Homo sapiens: one gene and its partner. Changing the gene in region 1 together with any one later gene gives a genetic interaction. Each region holds a gene or a part of one and is shown on either strand. Other genes may lie near its edges.

Region 1 (9,217 bases):
TTTCATCCTATGCAAGTTTCAAAACTAAATTTCCAGCCTGGACTTCTCCACTGAGCCCTGGACCCGTGAGATAACTACCTACTGGACATCTCCACCCAAATGTCCTCCAGGAAATACTCAAGTCCAAAAGTCATCATTTTTCACTCTTCAAAGTTTGGAGTCAGGAAGCTGGATTCATCTGGGTTGTCTTCCTCCCTCTCACCTCCTATGACGATTCAGTGACCCTCTCCTATGTATTGTATTGTCCTCGTCTTCCCAGAACTAGATGCTTTTCCCCATTTCATTGCTACTAAGTAAGCACCGTCACTACGAGTTCCTGACTGACCTTCCTCCCTCCAGAATGACTTTTCAAGTGCATCTACTATGTTGCTCCTGGAGGAATCTCTTTAAAGAACATGTCTGGTTGTATTACTCCTCTCCTTAAAGCCCATCAGGGGTTCCCCATAGTCCATACTGTGCAGCCTAAACTTCTGAGCCAGTTATCCAAAGCCCTCTCCTGCCTACCTCTTGAGCTTTAGCTCTCACACACTCTCCTTCCATGACTTGCCATTTGCTGGACTCCCTGGGTTGGTTTTCTCCTCCCTGCTTTTTCATGTGTTCTTTCTAATGAAATGCACACTCCCAAAACTGCCCCCGGATGCCTCTTTAACTTTCCAATTTTGAAGCATTTCCAGATAATCTCTGAGGTCAAAAGGTAACACTGTTGAAATCCAAGGATAAAGAGAAAATCATAACAGTAGACTGAGAAAAGCATTACATACTGAATTACATGAAAAATGAGATCTGACTTCTCATCAAAAGACGGAGGAGGAGGAAGAGATTGAGAAGAAGATGTGCAAAGACAATGTTGAAAGGAAAAAAAAACAACCTGTCAACCCAGAATTATATGGCCAGTGAAACCATCTTTCAAAAATGAAGCTGAAATAGCCTGTAATCCCAGCACTTTGGGATGCCGAGGCAGGTGGATCACTTGAGGCGGGGAGTTCAAGACTAGCCTGGCCAACATGGCAAAACCCCATCTCTACTAAAAATACAAAAACTTAGCCAGGTGTGGTGGCGTGCACCTGTAGTCCCAGCTACTCAGGAGGCTGAGACAGGAGAATCGCTTGAACCCAGAAGGCAGAGGTTGCAGTGAGCCAAGACACGCCACTGCACTCCAGCCTAGGCAACAGAGGGTGATTCCATCTCAAAATAAAGAAAATCATAACAGTAGACTGAGAAAAGGGGGAAGCATTACATACAGAAGTACAATAAAACTGAGATCTGACTTCTCATCAAAAGAAGGAGGAGGAGGGAGAGATGGAGAAGAACAAGATGCCCAGAGACAATGTTAAACGGAGAAAAAAAAAAATCCTGTCAATCCAGAATTATATAGCCAGTGAAACTGTCTTTCAAACATGATGGTGAAATAAAAACCGTTTCTGGGTAAACAAAACCTAAGAGAAATTGTTGCTAGCTGATCTGCCTCACAAGAAATACTAAAGGAGGATCTTCGGTCTGAAGATCTTCTGTTATGATAGTAACTTAGAAATACAGGAAGAAATGAAGAGGCCTGGACATAGTCAATATGTGGGTAAATATAAAGAATCTTATATTTTTCACTTTTCCTCAGGCATATTTTGATTGTTTTCAACAGCAAAATTTCAGGACAATAAGCATCACTAGAATGGTGCAATAGAAAGAATAAGCATTTTGACAACAGATCCGAGCTTTGCAACAGCTCTGTGATCTTACAGAACTTCCCATCATTTGATCTCCTCTGTAATATGGGATTAATAATGACCACCTTGTAAAGTTGTTTTGATAATTAAGATAATAACTAAAGCACCCTTGGGCCGGAGGTGGTGGCTCACACCTGTAATCCCAACACTTTGGGAGGCCGAGGTGGGCGGATCACTTGAGGTCAGGAGTTCAAGACCAGCTTGGCCAACAGGGCAAAACCCTATCTCTACTAAAATACAAAAATTGGCAAGGCATGGTGGTGTAGGCCTGTAATCTCAGCTACTTGGGAGGCTGAGGCACAACAATCGCTTGAACCCAGGAGGTGGAGGTTGCAGTGACCCAAGACTGCACCACTGCACTCCAGCCTGGAACGACAGAGCAAGGCTCTGTCTCTAAATAAATAAATAAATAAATAAATAAAGCACCCAGCACAGTATTTGGCATATAGCAGCTATTCAGTAAATGCTAGGTATTATCAGCTATTTCATGAATTTATGAATTCATAAAAGCAAAGTTAAGCACAAAATAATCCATTTTTACCGCTCTTTGTGTAACACCTTTCTGTGTTTGTTGTTGTTTATTTTGTACACATCTCTCTGTGTTGGAATACCTGCTGTCTAAGAACATCTAGCTGCTCTCAATCCACAATGACAGGCTTTTTCTCAAGAACAGTGGAATAGGAGGCACACAGACAGGGGAGTGAGCCCCTCCACAGAACAGCAGCAATGACCTGGACCACTGACATTCTTGTCATGATTCTTTTGAAATCGTAAATCTCTCTCTATATGGTATAACAATTTGCAATTCCTTGTTTTCTAAGATGTATCTACTACTTATGGCCCCAATCAACTACTAACTCACAGACACACCCATGTTTCCTAAATCACCAGATTTCAAAAGCTCTGTCTCCTGTCTACCGTGTAAATAAATCAACAATTAAGTCACCTTGTTTTCATCTTCTTATTTAAAAAGACTAAGGCAATGAATTGCTCATAGTAAGTTAAACTTCCCTTTGGTCTGTTGCTTGAAATATTTCCAAGCCTCCATGGACTGCTTCCCTTTCAGGAAGTGAGAAACACATGGACTGAGAAAAGACAAAGTAAGAGAATGTTTTAAAAATGTAAATGTTTATTCCAAAGTGCCCCTTTCAAAGAAGGACAGACTTAACTGGAAAAAGTCGCTGTCAAAATTCGTTTTTCCAGGGGCTCTTTGCACATTTTGCAAACAGCAATGGAAAGTTGAGCCTCCGCCTGGAGCTGGCATGGAGAGACACTGTTTCCCGCACTGTGCCAGGCTGTGCCTTAGGCTCTGCTATAAAAATATATAGGAAAGCGTGGCGCTGTTCAAACATAGCGAAAGGAGGCTTCGGTGCCATTACCTGAAAGGGAGAAATGTTTTACATTTCTTTCATGAAGCTCATGAACGAACACAGAACTTTATTTGGAAAGAAAAATGGCTTCCTATTTCTCATGAAGTAGTTCCACAAGCCATTGATCCTCCCTCTTCCTCCATCTTCGTTTTGTTTAGTTTTGGGCCTGAAGAACTAAGGATGGCCATAGCCTCCGGAAGGGAAAGAGTCGGGGGAGAGGACTTACCTGTGCCAGGCCAGCAAGCAGAAGAGTGGAGAAGAGGAGCCCCTGCATGTCGCTGGGACCGTGGAGCCACCCTGAGGGGTAGAGAAGTCGCCGCTTGTTCATTGCTCCGGGTACACAAAGCTCCCCTGTCTCCTCTGCAAACCCCACGCTCCTCTGCACAAGAACACACACCCTCTACCTCCCACACTACCAACTTTCAGCCTGCACTTTCATTTTTAAGGATCCGTTTTAATACCCTGTTTACTTTCATGGGACTCTTCTAATAACCTGCCTTCGCAGTGAGCGTGTCACAGGTCAGGAATGGGCGAGCACTTTCCTCCCGGGACTCAGGAGGGCAGGGCAAGTAGTGACTGTTCTCTAAGTGACTGTGTTACCTGTTCCTGGAGAGCAGAGCCTGCCCCCGACAACGGGTGGGGTCCCACGTCATTCCCTTCCTTGCCCTCAGCTTCTCCATCTGTGTTTGCCCTGCTCCGGGTCCTCTCTAGGCTGCTTCCTTCTCCAGCTTCACCCTCACGTACAGAGTGCAGGCCTGGCCCCCCCACCAACAGCACCCATCGCAGCCTAGCCCTGGCTTTCCCCCTCCATATTAATGGCAGGCTCTCGAAGGACCCTGACTCCCCCAGCTCAGATTCTCTCGGAGGCACCCACAGTGCCCTGGGCTCACCTTTATCCCAACACCTTTCTCATGCCAGGTGGACTGTGAGTGGAAAAAATACAGATGGAGCAGGGGGCGGACTCCTACAGTACCTGGCCTGAGAGACGCCTCTTTTTGTGGCCACAGTTCCATGACAGATGACAATGAAGTTAACCTCCATTTTTCCGGGCCTAAAATAAAACAATTACACTGGTAGCAATCATTCATTTAATGAATTAAGATTAAAAATAAGCCTGGCCAATATGATGAAATCCCGTCTCTGCTAAAAAAAAAAAAAGACACAAAAATTAGCCAGGTGTGGTGGCAGGCGCCTGTAATCCCAGCTGCTTGGGAGGCTGAGGCAGGAGAATCGCTTGAACCTGGGAGGCGGAGGTTGCAGTGAGCCGAGATCGCACCATTGCACTCCAGCCTGGGGGACAAGAGTGAGAATTATTCTCAAAAAAAAAAAAAAGATTAAAAATAAAATTTTGACAGGTTTGTACTCCTCTTCTTCATACTCACCTCCCTGAAAGGTGTGACCACCAGCGCATCTCCTCCTGTGTCATCATGTGGGACCTTCGCTTCTCCATGTTCTCAGCCTGGGTCTGTGTTCCCATCTTCATTTGCAGCTGCCGTGGTGCTTTGTCCCTCTCAGGTCCCTGAGGCGTCCCACCTGCCTGCCCCCATCCCAAGGCCTATTTCTATTTCCTTTGATCAGTTACCTATCCCTCCTTTTCCTGCTGCCTTACCTATCCTATACCGATTGCTCACCTTTGTTACTGTTCAAGGCAGTCACTACTGTATAAAGACAACATCAAGCCTCGCTTAGGCCTGAGCTGAGGGCCTGGGAAAAACGAGGCTGTCCTCCACCACAGAGAATCTGGTGTCCTTGGAGAACCATGGACACCCTAAAACCTGCAGATCACACAGAGCTTACTAAGGAGTCATTAAACTGTAAGTATATGCACATCAAACAACAAGGAATACCCACTGCAGTTAGGATGCCAACGCCTTATCTTGCCTCCCTAAGAAATAGGACAAAACCAGATAATGGAGTAGTGAAGAAAATGTGTCTGTTTTGGTCCAATCTGATCTTTTTCTTTTCTTTTTTTTTTTTTATTATTATACTTCAAGTTCTAGGGTACATGTGCACAATGTGCAGGTTAGTTACATATGTATACATGTGCCATGTTGGTGTGCTGCACCCATTAACTCGTCCTTTAGCATTAGGCATATCTCCTAATGCTATCCCTCCCCCCTCCCCCCACCCCACAACAGGCCCCGGTGTGTGATGTTCCCCTTCCTGTGTCCCAGTGTTCTCACTGTAGAGAAGTCCTTAAATGACCTGATGGAGCTGAAAACCATGGCACGAGAACTACGTGATGAATGCACAAGCTTCAGTAGCCGATTCGATCAACTGGAAGAAAGGGTATCAGTGATGGAAGATCAAATGAATGAAATGAAGCGAGAAGAGAAGTTTAGAGAAAAAAGAATAAAAAGAAACGAACAAAGCCTCCAAGAAATATGAGACTATGTGAAAAGACCAAATCTACCTCTGATTGGTGTACCTGAAAGTGACGGGGAGAATGGAACCAAGATGGAAAACACTCTTCAGAATATTATCCAGGAGAACTTCCCCAACCAAGCAAGGCAGGCCAACATTCAAATTCAGGAAATACAGAGAACGCCACAAAGATACTCCTCGAGAAGAGCAACTCCAAGACACATAATTGTCAGATTCGCCAAAGTTGAAATGAAGGAAAATATGTTAAGGGCAGCCAGAGAGAAAGGTCGGGTTACCCACAAAGGGAAGCCCATCAGACTAACAGCGGATCTCTCGGCAGAAACTCTATAAGCCAGAAGAGAGTGGTGGCCAATATTCAATGCTCTTAAAGAAAAGAATTTTCAACCCAGAATTTCATATCCAGCCAAACTAAGCTTCATAAGTGAGGGAGAAATAAAATCCTTTACAAACAAGCAAATGCTGAGAGATTTTGTCACCACCAGGCCTGCCCTACAAGAGCTCCTGAAGGAAGCACTAAACGTGGAGAGGAACAACTGGTACCAGCCACTGCAAAAACATGCCAAATTGTAAAGACCATCAATGCTAGGAAGAAACTGCATCAACTAACAAGCAAAATAACCAGCTAACATCATAATGTGGATCAAATTCACACATAACAATATTAACCTTCACACTTAACAATATTAACCTTAAATGTAAATGGACTAAATGCTTCAATTAAAAGACACAGACTGGCAAATTGGATAAAGAGTCAAGACCCATCAGTGTCCAATCTGATCTTTGTCTTTTTATCTTCCTGGTTATCACCATTGGTCTGTGGGTACCAGCCTGTGATTCCCACACCACACCGGCTGTCAGGATGGATAATTTCATGTTTCTGGTTTGTCTATGAAAAGCAGAGGAGTCGCATCCCAACACTGGGGTATTCATCAACTGTATCTCTCCAGCTCCAGCTCTCCCCCGGTTCCACATATAGTAATGCACATATCAGTGCAATTTTTGAATTTAAGGAGTTTCACCCTCCTCCCGTTTGCTGTCTGTGAAATGCTGGCGGCAGCAGGCATTTTTCTGGAATCGTCTTCCATCCCTCTGCAGTCTCACTGACGTGGAGCAGGGGAAGATAGATGTTGACCATCCTTGCCTCTTGGTAGGAAAGGAACATCTTGCTTGAAAAGTGACCTGCAAAACCTCCCCCAGCTCCAGAACACACTGGCGCTGGGTTACTCACTCCCACATGTGTTTAGACATCTTTGGCTGTGGGAGCTCCTATTTAACTCTTTCCAGCCGACTGTGTGTGGACTCCATGGATATGGTAGTTTTAGAGGTCGGGGCTGCTATTTTTGACCTTACACAATAAGAGCTTTCACAGTGTGTGTCCTGTTCTGAGCATGTTTCCCTATTATCTCATTTAACAGAATGCTAATCTGTCTAGGAGCTCATTTCACAAGTGTTCAGTTTGTGATGTACGTTCCAATAGACATGGCGCTAAGCATAATTCAATGTGCACCATGTTCTATGATTTACAAAGAAGTTTCCTGTGTATTACATTTTTAATTTCACAGCTCAGTGAGGTGGGCAAAAGCAGTATTACCAACCTCATTTAACAGATTAAAAAGTGAAAGCTAAGCGATTATACTTGGTCAATAAAACACACTTAATCTCTGCCCTCTACAGCTAAATAATCTACTGGGAGAGAAGACGCTGAACAAATAAACACACAAAATGTCCGTCATTGAAAGTTGAATAAAGGCTAATAAGAGCAAAGAAGAAATTATAAGAGAGAATGACAGGTGAGAGCTAATTTAGATTGGGGGCAGAGAGGACATCTGAGGAAGTGATACTTAGTCAAGAGATGAAGCTAGATGAAGAGTCGGGAGACAACTGCCAGTCCAGGACTCCTTCCACTGGCAAGATGCACACCTCTAATGGTGGTGAGCTCCCCCGCACAGAGCACACCCCACTCCTTTCCCGTAAGATTCCTAAAATCGTTCTGTTAGGAGCGTCATCACAGCTAGAATAGTCCCTTCTCCTGGGAGTACCAGCCGTCCGGGCAGGCAGTGTTTGGAGCTCATGCCTGTGGTCAGCAAGCTTAGTACAGTATGAGTCTTCCTTTCCTCATCCCCTCTTTCCTTATCTTCCTATCTTACTGATTGTGGAGAAGGGTGTATTGACATCCTTGAGAAAAGAGAAGATATTGTTTGTGGAAGTAATGTATTGAATGTGTGCTATGAGGGGGGTCAATATTTGCTCCAGTGAAATAGAGATATAGTAACAATAACACAGCTTGGGCAACATAGTGAGACCCCATCTTTACAAAATAGAAAGTAAAAAAATTAGCCAGGTGTGGTGGTGCATACCTGTAGTCCTAGCTACTTGGGAAACTGAGACAGGAAGATTGCTTGAGCCCAGGATGTTGAGGCAACAGTGAGCTATGATCATACCACTGCACTCCAGCCTGGGAAACAGAGAGAAATCCTGTCTCAAAAAAAAAAGTATAATAATAATAAGAGCTAACATTGGCCGAGTGTCACTGTGTCTCAATATTGTACTGAGTGCTGTATATGTATTAACTCCTCTGATCCTTCAGCAACACTGGGCCTGTGTTCTGTGATTACCATCTTTGGTTTACTTATTAGGAAACTGGGGCAAGGTCACATGGTTAGCAAGAGGTAGAACCAAGATTCCAAGAATTTCATTACCATGCTCTGCTGCTCTCTGCATGGCCTGTAAATGACACCATGATCAGTAGCAGGATGATTGATTGATATATTAATTTGCATTGAGTTCTCTGTATTTTTCTTCCACCTGCTCCTCTCCTGGATTTCAAGAAGTTAGTGAGGCCCTTTAGGGTTCCCGCCTATCCATCCTCTAAGCACAGGATGGAAGCTGCTGGCATGCTTTATCTTGCCTTTTGAGATCCTGCCTTGTTCTCACTGGTAAGAGGTGATGCTGGGAGACGATGGGGAGGAAGAGGAGTGCAGCCGAGCATTGGGTGAGGACTGAACATTCAGGCCTCCCCATGCAGCAGCCCGGGGAGGTGACTAAAGCTCAGAGGGACTTGATGATTCATGGTACTTCCAGGAGGCTGCCCCAGTACCAGGGTGCCCTGCACTGGCTAAGTTCCTCAAAGAACTTTGTGAGGATGCAAAGCCTCAAGTGTCTATGCGTATTTGGATGATACAGGTATTGGCAGAAAACTTAGGAACTGATTATCAGAGGCCTGGCCCCTTTTTAGGCACCTTCTAGGCCTGCTGGATTGTCGTTCAACCCCCACTCATGGTGGCAGTGGTGTGGGTGGGTGGGTGGTCATGATGGTGGCCATGGTATTGGGGGTGGGGAGGAATGCACCAATGATACCTTAGAATAAATCCATCTCAGGATGGAGGCAGGGGAGGAGGGTTCAGAGCCTGGTTTAATTTGAATTAAAGAAAATGAATTTGTGAAGTCATACTCATACTTGCTACAAATACCACAAGCTTCACAAAGTAGCCATTCTCCTGCAGTGTGGACTCTCCCCTGAAAACTCACAGAACTCAGAACCAAAACCAGTGCCGGAGCATCTGTACCGTCTCCCATGGCCCTCTGTTCACTCCTGGCTTGGCCTGCAACCGGGTCTCTAATAATGCAGCAACTCTGCCCACCAGGTTGCTACTGCAAGCCCAACAAGGCTGAAGGATGTTTGCTTGGTAGGTGCTCAATAGAAACTAGGTGATTCAAAATAGAGTCCTTTTAAATCACCTT
Region 2 (7,729 bases), on another chromosome or scaffold:
GACTGTGCGCTCACCCTGTCCCCGCCACCTGGTCCTTACAGCGGGGACGTGGGCTGTGCGCTCACCCTGTCCCCGCCACCAGGTCCTTACAGCGGGGACCCGGACTGTGCGCTCACCCTGTCCCCGCCACCTGGTCCTTACAGCGGGGACCCGGACTGTGCGCTCACCCTGTCCCCGCCACCTGGTCCTTACAGCGGGGACCCGGACTGTGCGCTCACCCTGTCCCCGCCACCTGGTCCTTACAGCGGGGACCCGGACTGTGCGCTCACCCTGTCCCCGCCACCTGGTCCTTACAGCGGGGACCCGGACTGTGCGCTCACCCTGTCCCCGCCACCTGGTCCTTACAGCGGGGACTGGACTGTGTGCTCACCCTGTCCCCGCCACCTGGTCCTTACAGCGGGGACGTGGGCTGTGCGCTTACCCTGTCCCCGCCACCGGGTCCTTACAGCAGAAACCTGGGCTGTACACTCACCCTGCTCCCGCCACCTGGTCCTTACAGCAGGGACCTGGGCTATGTGCTCACCCTGCCCCGCCACCTGGTCCTTGACCACATGTACCTGGCTGGGGTGAACAGGAAGACTTCCTGGAGAGGATGCTGCAGCCACACCTGAGAGGCCCTGAGGTGACAGGCGTTGAGGGGCGGGGGCTGCCCACCCAGCGCCTCTGGAGGCTCATCCATCCCCACCTGCCATGACCTCAGGCGTGGCCACAGGCTGGCCCTGGCCAAGGAAGTGGGAGCAGCAGTAGCGCGAGGAGTCTCTGCCCAGCAAAGCTGCAGGTGCCCCGTGTGGCTCCACCGTGCTCGTTTCCTCGCCCAGCAGCCGGCACACTGGGGAAGGCGCAGCCCTCAGCCACGCCTCCGGGTAGGGCCCCCACCAACAGACACGCAACAGGGGCAAGAAACGCCCGTGCTGTTCTGAGTCGTTGGGGTTCAGGCCTGGCTGTTTCCGCAGCATGGCCCAACCTGTCCTGACCAGCGCAGCCTCAGGTGCGGGGAGCCACACAGCAAAAGCCACAAGGGAGAGACAAGCCCTTGCTCGGTGAGACGTGGGGTGGGGAGAGAACCCGGGGAAGGTGTGCACCCGCATGTGTGAGAGTGCATGTCATGTATGAGTGCACACGTGTGTACATGCCTGAGTGCATCCATGTGTGTCCATGTGTGCAAATACCCGCTTGTCTGTATGTGCCTGTGTTCACACACCTGCCTGTGAGTGTGTGCCTGCGTATGCCTGGGTCTGTGTGGGCACACATGTGCTTGTGAATGTGTGCCTGTATGACCCCCATGCGTGTCTGTGTGTGAGCGTGCACATCCCATGGTCCCCAGGGAGACCTGAGCACCTGCAGGCCACGCTCTCGCACAGACCCACAGGGCGGGCCACGCTCTCGCAGACCCACAGGGCGGGCCACACTCTCACACAGACCCACAGGGCCAGCTGGCATGGCTGGGAACAAGCCTGCCTCTGGGAGGAAGAGATGGCCCCACCAGCCAAGCCTGTCCGAGGAGTACCACAGGTGTGTCACACTCACGGGCACACACATGGTGGGCTGGGCAGGGGCAGGCTTCAGGTGCCGCATCCGTTCCTCCAGAGTTGGCCCTGCCATCCCGGCCAGACTCCCCCAGGACCCCCTGGGCAGTGGGCAGATGGCAGCCCTCCCCAGGGAGGCCACCAAGTGACAGGGATGGGGCAGGCGAGCTGGCCTAGAAGCCTCTAAGGAGGGCGGGGAGGGGCTGAGCTGGAGAGCTCGGGGTTGGGGGGAGGGGTGGTGAGCAGCTAGACTCAGAGTAGTCCTGAGACACTAGCCCACTGTCAGCGTCCCTGGGGGTGGACACGGTGTGGTGTGGGGTTTCAGGTTCTAGTTTTTCATGGAGGGACTGAACTGGCTGGCTCTGGGGGTCCTTCCACCCCCGTCAGGATGGCTGCGACAGAAGGAGCTCTGTCTGTGGAGGGCGGGCAGGACGGCGTGGCGGGTGGCCTCGCTGTGTCCCTGTGTGGCTGCATGGTCACTCGGGGGCTGCTGTCCCCACCCATCAGAAACACCTCAGGCTTCCCCGTTTCTGCAGCAAGGCCCAGCTTGTGCTGATCGACGCAGCCTCAGAGCGACGGAACCACACAGCCAATGCCGCCACCCTTCGTGGGCAGCCGGATCTCCCCTCCCCCAGCGCTCACAGCCCACCCCACCACCGCGGCCACTCACTGGCGGATGAACTGGATGGCGTCCTCGTACTTCATCCCGCTCTCAATAAGGGCCAGCGCCACAAGGACTGGAGCCCTGGGGGCAAACAGCAGGGCGGGGGTCATCGGAGCCTGCGCACCCCTGTCCCCTTGGCAGGGCACCTGCTGAAGATGCAGGGCACGGGGGCCCAAGGGGCCCAGAATCCCCCCTGCCTGAAGCTCCCCCATGGAGGCCACAGCCTCACAGCCCAGCCTGAGCACTGGGTCTAAATCCTGGCTCCCTCCTAGGCAACCTCTCTGTGATCTGCTGGGGGAGGGTTAAATAAGAGCTGGCGGGTGAAGTGCTAAGAGCCGGATCCATGCCTGCTATCAACTCTGCTCGCCTGGGTCTCCCTCTGCAGATGGGGGTGTCCCACTGGTCATGTCATCCGATCCCAGCTGCCATTCTTCCTCCCGTTCTCCCAGCAGGGAGTCTGAGGCCCCAGCTGTGTGTGGGGGGATCTTTGTGTCTGGAGAGGGGGACGGCAGCCCTTTCCTACACAAGATGTCAGGATGGTTTCAACCATAGCAGGAAGAAGTTGGGTTAGACTTTGGGAAGCACTTCCTCTCTGTGATGCTGGGAGAGGACCAGTCTGGGAGCCCCAGCACTAGGGGCATGGGCCTCCTGGGAAGGTCGCGTGGACGTGTGTTCAAGACCCACATCCAAAAGCGAGGCTGTCAGACCACGAGATGCCCAACCACCTGACATGGCGAGCCCTACCCCGCCCCGACACTCACCGGCCCAGGCCCGCCACGCAGTGCACAGCCACGCAGCTGCCGGGGGCCTCACAGAACTTGGCCTTCACCAGGCTCAGCCAGTCTTCCACTACCTTGCCGGGCGGGGGCGCCCCATCGTCAAACGGCCAGTCCTACGGAGGGAAGCAGACATGAGGACCCCCGGCTGAGGGAGGGTAGAGAGGCGGCTCTGGGGCTCAGGCGAGGAAAGGGAGCTCTGAGAGGCAGAGGGTGCCAGGAGCCCACTAGGGTGGGGGCAGCAGACCCAGAGGGCACACAGGAGGGGCACAGCTTGCCTATGGGCACCCCATGGTGAGTGCTTCAGACTCCTCATCATTCCCTGTACACTGCAGCTATCCCCTCCTCCAGGAAGCCTTCCTGGACCACCCCACCCCTTTCTGAATAGAGCCTGCTCCAGAGTCGCACAAATCCTAATCCCCACACCTGTCAGCCCGAGCTCTGGTTCTGGGGTCACAATCCCTCACGCCTGTGTGCCGGTGGCAGCCTGAGAGGTTTTGGGTCGGCTGGTGCAAAGGGTCTCATCCCCTGTGCTGGCATGCAAAGATGGCTGGCACATGCCACACACAGCCCAGGTGCCAGGAAGGACTGAAGACAGGGCTGTGGGGCGAGACAGGGCCCACATTTCTGAGGGCAGGACTCGAAACAGGCGGTTCCACCGGGCCCCGGCCCATTGCTCCTGGGGGTTAATTTGGTCTTGGAAGATGACCTGTGCTTCCCACTGTCCCGTCCCCCAGCGCCCTAGATCGGTGGGCAACGTGAGTCTTCCTAGGGGAGGGCCCGGGCCAGGGCGCTGCAGTAGGAGTGGACACGTTTCAGTCTTGGGAAGGCGGGTTCATGCAGGGACTGTGCCAGGCATGGGGCTGTCTGGTACCAGGGAGAGCCCGCTGGGCCCACTGAGGCAGACACACAGCCCTCGGGGGCATCTCACCCCTCCCCAGCCTCCAGGCAGGGCAACTCCTAGAGACAACCGGTGTCACGGCTACTTACGTCTGACCCCAATCCCTCCCGCTGCTGTGGAAGGGGAGGGAGGGTGTGGGCGCACCCCGTGCGAGAAGCGGGGACATGCCTTTGCCTCCCATTCTTCCAAGCAGCCTCGCTTTGAGGTGAGGAACCCAAGGCTCGGAGTGACCTGCAGGGTCGCAAGGCTGGGGAGGGCAGAGGCGGGACGCAGCCCAAGGCCTGTCTGACCCCAAACCGCCAGCGCTGCCACCATTCCAAACCGCCAAGCTGAGGTCACAAAACTGCAACCCCAGCCAAAAGCAGAGTCCTGGGATGAAAAGCAGTGACTGAGGGGTGCTCCGCACTGAGGAGACTGAGGCCCAGGCGCAGCTGGGCAGGCCTGCACCAGGGGGGCAGTCGTCCACCGGGCCGGGGGTGGACCCCCCTGGGGCTGGCTCTGGGCCTGCAGCTGCTGTGGCCCACCCCCCCAAGGATATCGCAGCAGAACCGCCCCACCCCCCGCCCAGACCTGGGTCCCCAGGGCCAAAGAAGCCGAGGAAACTGCCCAAGGGCCCTCCCCAGGAGCCTGCTGCCTGGCAACAGGGCCCCAGCCGCCCAGGCAGCAAGACTGAGATGCACCCAAGACAGGCCCAGAGGAGGGCCTGAGACAGGCAGAGGAGCCCACCCGCCACCTTGGCCGATGCACCAAGCATGTGCCACCCCTGCCTGGCGAACCGTGCTGGCCCACCCTAGAGACAGAAAGACGGGTGCGCAAGGGTGACTTTCTTGAGGTCACACGGCCCAACACCCTGGCCTTCCCTTGATGTACCCAGACACACACGTGGCCCAGGCACAGACATGCCCAGGGCTGCCACAGGAGGGGCACCAAACCCTCTGCGCAGGCCCGGAGCCCCCCGCCCCACCCTCCCCCGGTGGCAGCAGTGACTAGGGTCCCCGTGGCGCGCGCCTCACCACAACGGTGATGCCATCCTTCTCCAGCGGCGTTTTGTCATAGGTCACTTCACACACACGCACCACAGTGGTAGCCCCGTACTTCTTCAGGTCCTGGGGGTGGGAGGACGGAGGAGGCAGGGCTGGGCTGGGGCTGCAGGGCTCAGGGGGCAGGACCCACTCACCAGGGCTCCCAGGGCACAGCTGTGTCCCCCACAGTCACCCAGGACTTGGACATGTCCCCTCAGACCTCTCGGGGTGGAGCCCTGTCCCCTCAGTCCCCTGGGGCAGGGTCATGGCCCCTGAAGCCCCCAGGGAAGGGCATGTCACCCTCCAGCCAGGCAGACCCTGATGCAGTGAGGTCCACCAAGAGTGGACTTCAGGCTCCACTACTGGTCGAGGTAGTGTCTGGCTGTCGAAGAGCCTGTCCTAGGTCCCTTGGGCCACCCAGCAGAGGCAAAGGTGTCCCCACCTACATTCACGGTAACTGGCAGCTGGGACCCCAGCTGCCCAGCACACCACTCCCTCCTCTGGGGTGCTCAGGACCCCAGATCTACCAGCAAGGACATTTCTTCCAGAAAAGCTACTGGGTCCCCACAGCAGGAACTGGACTCCCCAGCCCACGTGTGAGCCCCTGCATCCGAACAGCGACCCCAGCTGAGCCGCAGGGATGGGTCCAGTTTTTAGGGTCTAAGAGGGGCGGGCATCAGCTGGGGCGCCTCAGAGCAGGGAGGGTGGGCACCGCTCAGATGGCAGCCAGGAGGAAGCTGGGCCCTGTACGCCAGCAGGGAAGCCCCACACGACCAGGGAAAAGGTGGTGGTAGTTCACAGCCAGGCCGATAGTTATACCCCCACTGCGGAGGATCCACTCCACAGGGGTCACGTGCGGGGGCTGTTCCCACCCCACCTGCTCTCGTAGCTATTTTGGGAGGGGTGAGGAATCAGCTGATGGGTCTTGCTGGTCACGGGACAGGGACCTGGAACACAGAGAGGCCAGCACCCAACTATCTGAGAATGCAGGGAGCAGGCAGGGTGCTGGGCTCTGTGGCCATGGGGTACCTCAGAGGCCCTCTGCACCCTCAGCAGAGGGAATGGCCACCCAGCCCACGGCTCAGCCCTGGCCCTGGTCACAGGCTGAGCCCTTCCTGATCCTGGTCACACACTGAGCCCTGATCCTGGTCACGTCCTGAGCCTTGATAGTCACACACCTCTGAGCCCTAATCCTGATCACGTGCTGAGCCCCCAACCCTGGTCACACATTGAGCCCTAATCCTGGTCACATACCGAGCCTTGATCTGGGTCACACACTGAGCCCTGATCCTGGTCAGACACTAAGCGTTAACCCTGGTCACAGGATGAGCCCTCCCTAACCCTGCTCACCTACTAAGCCTCAATCCTGGTCACACACTGAACCCTGATCTTGGACACACACTGAGCTTCGACCCTGGTCACATACTGAGCCCTGATCCCAGACACACACCAAACCCTGGCCCTGGTCACACACTAAGCCCTGATCCTGGTCAAACACTGAGCCCCAACCTTGGTCACATACTGAGCGCTAATCCTGGACACACACTGAGTCCCAACCTTGGTCACATACTGAGCCCTGATCCTGGACACACACTGAGCCTCAACCCTGGTCACACATTGAGCCCTGATCCCAGACACACACCGAACCCTGACCCTGGTCACACAGAGCCCTGATCCTGGTCAAACAGTGAGCCCCAACCTTGGTCACACACTGAGACCTGACCTTGGTTACAGACTTAACCCTGATCCCAGTCATATTCTGAGGCCTCACCCTGGCCACTCACCGTGCTGTTCTCGCCAATCTTTCTGTAGATGCTGCTGTTATCTCAGGGGTCTCAGCTGCGAGAGGGACAGCCATCTTCTGTAGGGCACCTGGCTCAGTGTCCAGGGTCCAGGCTCCCTGATGGCAAGGTGCCCAATGCCTCCTGCTGCTCTACAGTTCTTAATGCCCTCTCACGCCCAAATCTGTTTCATTATGACAAGACCATGATGGCTTATCTCATGTCACAGGGGAAAGGACTCAGCCATAAATGACCCTGCACACAGCTGCAGCCTCTCACACAGCCTGGCACAGTCAGAGGCTCTGTCAACGGCCCCGCACACAACTGCAGACGCTGCAAACGGCCCCAGGCCTGCAAACAGCAGGGCGTTCTGCAGAGGCCAGGCTCCTCCAGGAGGCCATGCAGGTCGCTCCAGACTCCACTCCCAAGAAAGCTTCTGTAAACGCATCTCGTCCCATCTGCCAGGGTTGCCAGCGGCAGGTATCTCTGCTGCCTCTCCAGGGCACAGTGGTCCCTCCCTCCTGTGGTCAGCGCTGACCCTTGCTCAGTCCCTCCTCACACAGAGATCTGGGCCCTGAAGCCCCTAGTCCAGCCTGGTCTAACCTGAGGCCTCATCCAGAGCCCAGCAACATCTGGGACAGCAAAGGGCTCGGGAGGGCCCCAGCCCAGGCCACGGCTGAGCACGCACAGCCTGGTCCATGTATCCCCCTGCCTCACCCCCTGCCTCTATCCACACAGCGTGGAGTCCCTCCTATCACACGCCAGCCCCCTGCAGGCCTCCCAGGGGACCCCGTTGATCCCCCAACACCCTCAACCCCAACCCCCGGGGCACCCCCATCTCCCTCCTCCAGGATCCTGTAACAGGCGACTGGGCTTTGTTCCAAGGCTGTGAGCCCTGTCTGGCCAGCCGGGGCTGGGGACCCCTCTTGCGAGGCCTGAGGGCAGCTCAGCCGGGCTTCCCAGACACCTGGGCCACCTGCCTGCCACACCTCCGTCTCCACTCACCTCAATGAAGGTGCTGAGCGTGGCGTTGGTGGGGTTGTGGGTGATGAGGAAGCG

What was found.
Region 2: changes in CCN6 (region 1) and PTP4A3 together harm fitness less than expected from each alone (positive genetic interaction), as found in Homo sapiens cells (one study listed by BioGRID).

The regions. Positions count from the first base shown.
Region 1 is NC_000006.12:112,048,506-112,057,722, reverse strand, and holds the start of CCN6 (cellular communication network factor 6 isoform 1 precursor), read right to left. Parts: upstream 3,620-9,217; 5' UTR 3,389-3,619; coding exon of another isoform or gene 3,366-3,388; coding exon 3,318-3,365; intron 1-3,317. UniProt on the Homo sapiens protein: Plays a role in mitochondrial electron transport and mitochondrial respiration. Through its regulation of the mitochondrial function may play a role in normal postnatal skeletal growth and cartilage homeostasis.
Region 2 is NC_000008.11:141,422,292-141,430,020, reverse strand, and holds part of PTP4A3 (protein tyrosine phosphatase type IVA 3), read right to left. Parts: coding exon 7,676-7,729; intron 4,974-7,675; coding exon 4,881-4,973; intron 3,083-4,880; coding exon 2,952-3,082; intron 2,272-2,951; coding exon 2,197-2,271; intron 1-2,196. UniProt on the Homo sapiens protein: Protein tyrosine phosphatase which stimulates progression from G1 into S phase during mitosis. Enhances cell proliferation, cell motility and invasive activity, and promotes cancer metastasis.